Linked DNA regions of Homo sapiens. The gene in region 1 interacts genetically with each later gene. Each region holds a gene or a part of one and is shown on either strand. Other genes may lie near its edges. The genes, in order: GATB and MRPS21.

Region 1 (3,822 bases):
TGTGTTGAATACTCTTCCTATGTGCTCCTCAAGCACCTTGTATTTCCACGACTAACATGTTTATTAAAAGGTAGTGCAACTGCCTGCTTGCTTGTTCATGCTCCATGTGGGCAACACCCATATCTATCGTCTACCAAGTTCAAAACTGTGTCACTAGAGCTACACAAGGGCTAGCATAACGTGGGCATCCAATATATGCCAGCTGAGTGAATGAAGACACAACCGACAGAGAAGAAGAATGAAATGTCTACAGAAAGACTATACATTATAACAATTGTTTTAAGTGACAATCCTAATTTTTTACTAAATCAAGAGCCAATACCATGTTGAACCAAAGAAACACTCCAAATAACTACAGATGGAAAAAAAAAAGCTCATAAGCCTTCTTTTTCGCAATAAAAGTAATGATTTCTAATTCAGAAATAATTTTATCCATATACTAGTTTTTACTGGTTTTCATTATTTACTTAATTCTCTATACATCTCTGAGGTGATGAGATACCCAGGTTAGTTTTTGTTGGCAGATCACTTAACTGGTGAAATCAAGGTTAAGTGACCAATTGTTATGTGTAGCATTTACTTTTGCTCTCACTGGCAACGTAACTGTGCACAATAACTCAGGAGAGCCTTTGTAAAGATAAAAGCCACCAATCATTATGGGTATGCTAGCAGGTAAGATTTACCTTACCTATTATTAAGAGCTTTTTAATTAATTACCTGTTATTACTTGTTAATTATCTGTTAATTAATAAGAGCACTTACTACATGCAATTACTGTTTTAAGTGTTTTAAAGGTACTGATTCATTTAATTCTCACACAAATCCAATGAGTCAATTATCTCCATTTTATAAGAAACTGATGCAAAGAAGATTAAGTAATCTACATGAAAATTCTATTCATCTCACTAGAATTTTTATCTTTAGCATTGTCCTATGTCACTAAAAGTCTATTATAAACATTATCAGTGGCTTCATAATGTTGTACTGTACTGATGTATTATAATTTACTCAATGATTCCCCCATCACTGAGAAACTGTGGTTACTTCCAATTTTCTACCTTTAAAAATAGATCTGCTATAGACATCTCTGCATATAAGTCTTTGCCCACATGTTTATTTTCCAAGGACAGATTCCTAAAAGAATTACTACGTCAATAAACATGTTGGGCGAATAAAGTAGTCAAATTGCCATTTTGCCTAATTAGCTGTTTTTTCTTGCTTTTATGCCTACAAAGTTTCTCCCCAACCCAAGGACAAACAAATATTCTCCTAGATATTTCTGGATTTAATTTGACATTTAACTTATATTATATATATATGAACTTTGTTTTGATGTGTGAAATGAGCGATACTTTTTCTCCAAATAGCTAACCAATTCCAAAACCATCAGTTAAATAACTTATCCTTTTCCCACTGATTTTTGCTTCTTCTTACATATATTTTCCCTTGTTGGTTTATTCTTTCGTCAGGAGGCAGTGAAACTTTGGGGAGAAAAGATAACAGGCTTAACACTGTAACTGCTGAATTTAAGATGTTTATGAATCATTCAGATGGAAATATATAGTAGGACACAATAGATATAGGTTTCTTGCCTAAAAGAGAGAGGGGAGCTTTATTTGAGGGTAAAAAGATTACTCAGGGGAACACAGGTAACAGAAGAATTGAGAGCCAAAGAATAGGGCATGGGAAACCAACATTTCAGGGCTGAGTGGCAGAACACAGCCATGTGAGAAGGCACAATCAGCCAGGTAGAGGGCGGGGAAGAAGCAGGAGAGAAGGGAGCAATATAAGCCCTGCGCAGAAAGAGTTTCAAGTATCATCATGAATCACACTTACACTTTGGTTTACTTGACCAAAACAATAACATAATGTTCTACTAAAATCCTCGGAAGCACAAACATATTCTCAAATTATTGGTTTCTTATGAATGGAGTTATAAGCAGAGTCTGGCTATCAGAGCATGTTTATACATCTCCATAGGGCTTAGGGGAAGGACAACTGTCTAAAGGTTTTAGTGTATTTTAAATCTATTTAGAGGTAAATCAAAAGATTTTGAAATGTTTTGAATGGCAATGCTTAATTCTGGGAGTTTGGGTATAATGTTGCTCACGTACAAAATGAGGTCCCTTAAAGGCAGAAACATTTCTGAAGAAGAGGTAGATCTCCTCTGTCTACAGAATAACCCATCTAGGCTACTTAAACCATAAGCGTTGTAGGCTCTGAAGAGGAAAACAAATCCTAGCTCATACAAAACTGTATTTCCAGACTTTGTCTGCCATTTAATTAATGTAAGCCAAGCTCTCAACACTCAAATGTCCCAAACACCTTCACTGTGTTATTGATATGCTTATCAGTGAACAAGCACCTTCTTTTTTGGTGCATGACAAGTTTTACAAAGCAATTAAAATGTTGGCATTTTAATTATTTTGAATTTTTCTAATTTGGTCTAATTTTTGACCAAATTTAGGTACAGCTGGAGAGTCTATATACAGAAAACATGCTTATCTGCAAATGGACCTGTTTCTAAAGTGAACTGTAATAAGTATGGCCTGATAGCCATCACATTCACAGCTGGAAAAACCTAGGATGAACTCAGAGCTTATGCCTAATCTCTTGATAATTAACTACAACATGGGAAAAAAATGTTTTGAATCTGGAAGGGAAAATGTAGAGGTGTTATGACAACTTGCCTTCCATTTTACAATAAATATTATTGTATCTCTACTATATCTGAATCTCTGCCCAAAAAAGATGTCATATATTTATAACCAAAATATTCACTCTTCTCAAATAAACAAAAAATCTTTCCATAGATAGATCTCTAAGTCAGAGAGAGAGAAAGAGGGCACACCTCCACATCTATCTTCTCCCAGAGGGACCCAGCAGCAAATCAAAGGTGATCCTTGATATGGTCTGCAGGGAAGGGAGTCCTCCATGACAGAAAATGCGATAAGAGAAAAGTTCCAAGACAAAGATGCTGCCCCAATACAACCAAAGCTGAGTGAGGCAGGCATACTGGAGGCACTGCCCAGAATCTTCCACTTTGGTCAGTGACTGAGAAAAGTATACCTCTGCAAGCCTGCCAGTGCTCAGTTCAACCAGCTTCCAGATTTTTTTTTTTTTTTTTTTTTTTGAGATGGAGTCTCGCTCTGTCGCCCAGGCTGGAGTGCAGTGGCGCGATCTCAGCTCACTGCAAGCTCTGCCTCCCAGGTTCACGCCATTCTCCTGCCTCAGCCTCCCCAGTAACTGGGACTACAGGAGCCCACCACCATGCCCGGCTAATTTTTTGCAGTTTACTATTAGTAGAGATGGGGTTTCACCGTGTTAGCCAGGATGGTCTCGATCTCCTGACCTTGTGATTCGCCCACCTTGGCCTTCCAAAGTGCTGGGATTACAGGCGTGAGCCACCGCGCCCGGCCTCAACCAGCTTCCACTCTTATTTAAATGTTTGAGAGCATGGAATTTACCCATGACAATGTCTGCCTCTCCCCACCTTTGTCACCACCATGGATACACATTTCCTCCAAAGATGGCAGGAAACCCCAAACACAGTTGATATTATAGGTCCTGGACAGACCATATGCTATTTATTAGCTAAAACATTTACTTGTTCCCTTCATACTTTTCTTAAAAATTCAACCAATTATATAAAAATATATGCCAAAAGTCTTGCTGATGAGTATACTGGGCCCAGTCATTCCATAGGATCAAGTAAAAATGAGTGGTTAAGTGAGTACAATAGTTAACTCACTGCATATTATGGCTGTTTTCTACATTATTGAGTGTTTCTTAATTTGCAATAACCACAATCATTACTGGCCT
Region 2 (3,822 bases), on another chromosome or scaffold:
AGGTGATCCACCCACCTCGGCCTCCCAAAGTGCTGGGATTGCAGGCGTGAGCCACCACGCCCGGCTGATGTCTCTTTTATAGCACTGATCAAACAGTATTACATTGAACCCCTCATTGGGTTGTGTCTTTTCTAAGGTTAGAGATCAAATCTGTATTCACTTTTGCACCTAACAAAATACTTGGCAAAGAACAACTAGGAAATGTATGCCAAAAATGAGTCCTCTAGATGACTAATAAATGTCCATAGCACAAGGGATTAAGTGACCTTACAATATATACAGTTATTGGGGATATAGCTCAGAAAGCCTCAATAGTATTACCTTTACTACGATGGCATATTAGAGTTTAGATAGCATTTTTATATCCATCATCCTAACTACACTCCTATGAAATTGTTTAGGCAAATAATGTCCTCTTTTTATAGATGAGGAAACTGAAGTTCAGAGAGGCTGACCCGCCCAAGATCACAAAATGGAACTATAAACAGAATTCAGGTCTTTAGTAAAGTGCTCTACAACAGTATTCTGCTTCTCAAACAAAAACCACCCATTTCAGAAGACAAACTGTTGCAGTATCCATGGGTAAAAGAGGGAGTGAAGAGCTGGGCTAGACTCTTCAATCAGAGTAAAGAGGAAATGGAAGCCGATAAGGGACACTTGGATAAAAGAATGATCTAAACATGTAAACATTTATTTCTGCTGAGACTTTGTGTTTAATACTGTCTAATGAAGGTTGCTTTTTGGACTAGAAAGTAGTATATTGGAGAAAATATAGAAAAAAGCCCCTGAAAGAAAAAGATTGGATATATAATGTAAAAAGTACAAGGAGACTGGATTTGAGAGAATATAAAAACGACAGAGACCCTGAGTAAATATGACCTAGGAAGACGAACCTATTGGAATGACAAAGACAGTTTAAAAGTAGGATGAAACAACACTGCAAGAGGAGGAAGGGGTTGAGTATGACTCAAGGAACCCTACTGGAGTTCCAAAAGGCTTCTAAAACAAAGGTGATCATCTTACCAAGGAAATGCCTGTACTGTCAGGCAAAAGGGCAAGACAAGGAAAAAGAATAACAAAAGAACATAAGAATGGTGAAGGGAAAAGAAAGAATATAATGATGGGGGTTGGTAAATGGCATTCCCTGGATGTACTACTTACTTCCAAAACACAGACCAAATAAATTCCAAGATGCCAGGTGAGGATTCCCTCCCTTACCCGACACGTTCTAGTCATACTAAAAAAGGCACAGATTATCTTCAAATGCCCCAGAGTCCCTATAGTAGAGGTATCTACTCAACTTTACCTCTAACAGAAAAGGATGCAAGAAAAGCTTTGTAAAACACAAGAATAGAGGGGGTGTTACTAATGATGCTTCCTTCTGCTTCCAAAAGTAGTTCAAGGACTAGTACATCAAGAGCTTTAGAGTAAACAGATCAGCCTGGAGTTCGGGCGCCTGGCAACCTAATACTGAAGGAGAAACCAGCTGCCAGTTTTAGTGAAATTCAAATGATTATGTAAAAGGAGCCAAGCTGCCTGGAGCGGGGGGAGGTGCGGGTGGCAGACTCACATGTCAGTGTAGCCAGTCTACGTCAGGACAGACGTGTATGCAGAAGGACTCAATGGACCCAGAAGGTAGCCCACTAGGAGTAAAAGGAGTCAACAGGGCATGCTTCCAGTGTACTCACCTTTCTTTGCTTGGGGGCCAGCCAATCATGCAGGGCTTCCTAGCAACCCCCACTCTCCACCTTCTCATCCCGGGGCACCAATGAGGGCCCCCAGTTATATAACAGGCATTTTGTGGTGGCCTCACTGGACAGACACGTAGGCTATTTCCTTTGTAAGACTCTCTCTGTACTCCAAACATGGTAAAGCTTTAATCACCTCCCTCTAGACTCATTTGCTCTCCTACCTATTGTTGTAATTAGACCACAGAACAAGCAAATTATTTTTAAACTACCAGCTATGAGAAAGCTGAAAGAGATCAGGAGAGGCCTGGAGTGTGAGAAAGATATACAGAAAAAGTGGCTAGAGAGAGGACATTTGGGAAAAGCAGAGAAAAAGAAGAAACAGAAAAGTGCATCAGTCAGAAAATGTGTTTAACAGGCAGCAGGAAAACAGAAGATTGGATCACTCCAAAATCAGTCTGCTCACGTATGCAAGCTTGAAAGTCCTTACCTAGAAAATTATTCTAAGAGGCCGGGCACGGTGGCTCACCCCTGTAATCCCAGCGCTTTGGGAGGCCGGGCGGGCCAATCATGAGGTCAGGAGTTTGAGACCAGCCTGGCCAACATCGTGAAACCCCGTCTCTACTACAAAAAATTAGCCGGACGTGGTGGCAGGTGCCTGTAATCCCAGCTACTCGGGAGGCTGAGGCAGGAGAATCACTTGAACCCGGGAGACAGAGGTTGCAGTGAGGCGAGACCACGCAGTCTGGGCAACAGAGAGAGACTCCGTATTAAAAAAAAAAGAAAGGAAAAAGAAAATTATTCTAAGACTGAAATATTTGTTCATTTCCCCCCTGCCCCGCGAAGCTATAATACAATTTATGGGACTCTGAGTCTATGGGACTTGAATTTCTTTTCCTTTTTTGAGACGAAGTCTCGCTCTCGTCCCCCAGGCTGGAGTGCAATGAATGGCGCGATCTCGGCTCACTGGAACCTCCGCCTCCTGGGTTCAAGCGATTCTCCTGCCTCAGCCTCCTGAGTAGCTGGGATTACAGGCACCTGCCACCATGTCCGGCTAATTTTTTTTCTTTTGAGACGAAGTCTCGCTCTCGTCCCCCAGGTTGGAGTGCAATGGCGCCATCTTGGCTCACTGCAAGCTCCGCCTCCCGGGTTCACGTCATTCTCCTGCCTCAGCCTCCCGAGTAGCTGGGACTATAGGCGCCCGCCACGGCGCCCAGCTAATTTTTTGTATTTTTAGTAGAGACGGGGTTTCACTGTGTTAGCCAGGATGGTCTCGATCTCCTGACCTCGTGATCCGCCCCCCTCAGCCTCCCAAAGTGCTGGGATTACAGGCATGAGCCACCGCGCCCGGCCAATTTTTGTATTTTTTTTAGTAGAGACAGGGTTTCATCATGTTGGCCAGGCTGGTCTTGAACTCCTGACCTCAGATGATCCACCCGCCTCGGCCTCCCAAAGTGCTGAGCTTACAGGGGTGAGCCACCGCGCCTGGCCAAATTTATTTTTCTAACCACTCCTCTTCTTTCTTAAAAAGAAAAGAATATAATTCTTTTCTTTTTAAGCAATGTAAATTGCTTTTTTCCAAATCCTACTCCTACTTTGGTGTTTTAATCCCTGAAGAAAAGGTAATACTGTGCTTCTTAACCAGGGTAATTAACAGAATGCCAAAGGATACAAGTTTCTGGACAAATTTGATGCATCTGCCTGGAGGCACCAATTTTAACTCGAAGGAGTGGGGGTGTTACCCATAAAACAGATGCAATGGCAACGAATACGAAGTTCACCTTACATTTTAATTTAGGGAAGCTTCAAAGAAATTCCATGTTTGCTTATAGTAGCAGAACCCCTATAGTTCATTCACTCTCCTCTGCTGTTAACGACACTTCAGTAAAAAAGTTTGACAAACATTAAATAAGTGACAAAAAAGATAAAGGAACATTTATGTTCATTAAGTAGACATTTAATGAGAGCTTTGGATGTGCCAGACACTTTGGTAAATCCAAGAGATACACAAATGAAAAAGCATAGGTTTCTGTCCTTAAGGAGGCTACAAGCCTTTTTTTTTTTGAGACAGGGTCTCACTTTGTCACCCAGGCTGGAGTGCAGTGGCGCGATCTCGGCTCACTGCAACCTCCAG

The links.
Region 2: changes in GATB (region 1) and MRPS21 together harm fitness less than expected from each alone (positive genetic interaction), as found in Homo sapiens cells (one large-scale study listed by BioGRID).

The regions. Positions count from the first base shown.
Region 1 is NC_000004.12:151,754,358-151,758,179, forward strand, and holds part of GATB (glutamyl-tRNA(Gln) amidotransferase subunit B, mitochondrial isoform 1 precursor), read right to left. Parts: intron 1-3,822. UniProt on the Homo sapiens protein: Allows the formation of correctly charged Gln-tRNA(Gln) through the transamidation of misacylated Glu-tRNA(Gln) in the mitochondria. The reaction takes place in the presence of glutamine and ATP through an activated gamma-phospho-Glu-tRNA(Gln).
Region 2 is NC_000001.11:150,300,273-150,304,094, reverse strand, and holds part of MRPS21 (small ribosomal subunit protein bS21m), read right to left. Parts: intron 1-3,822.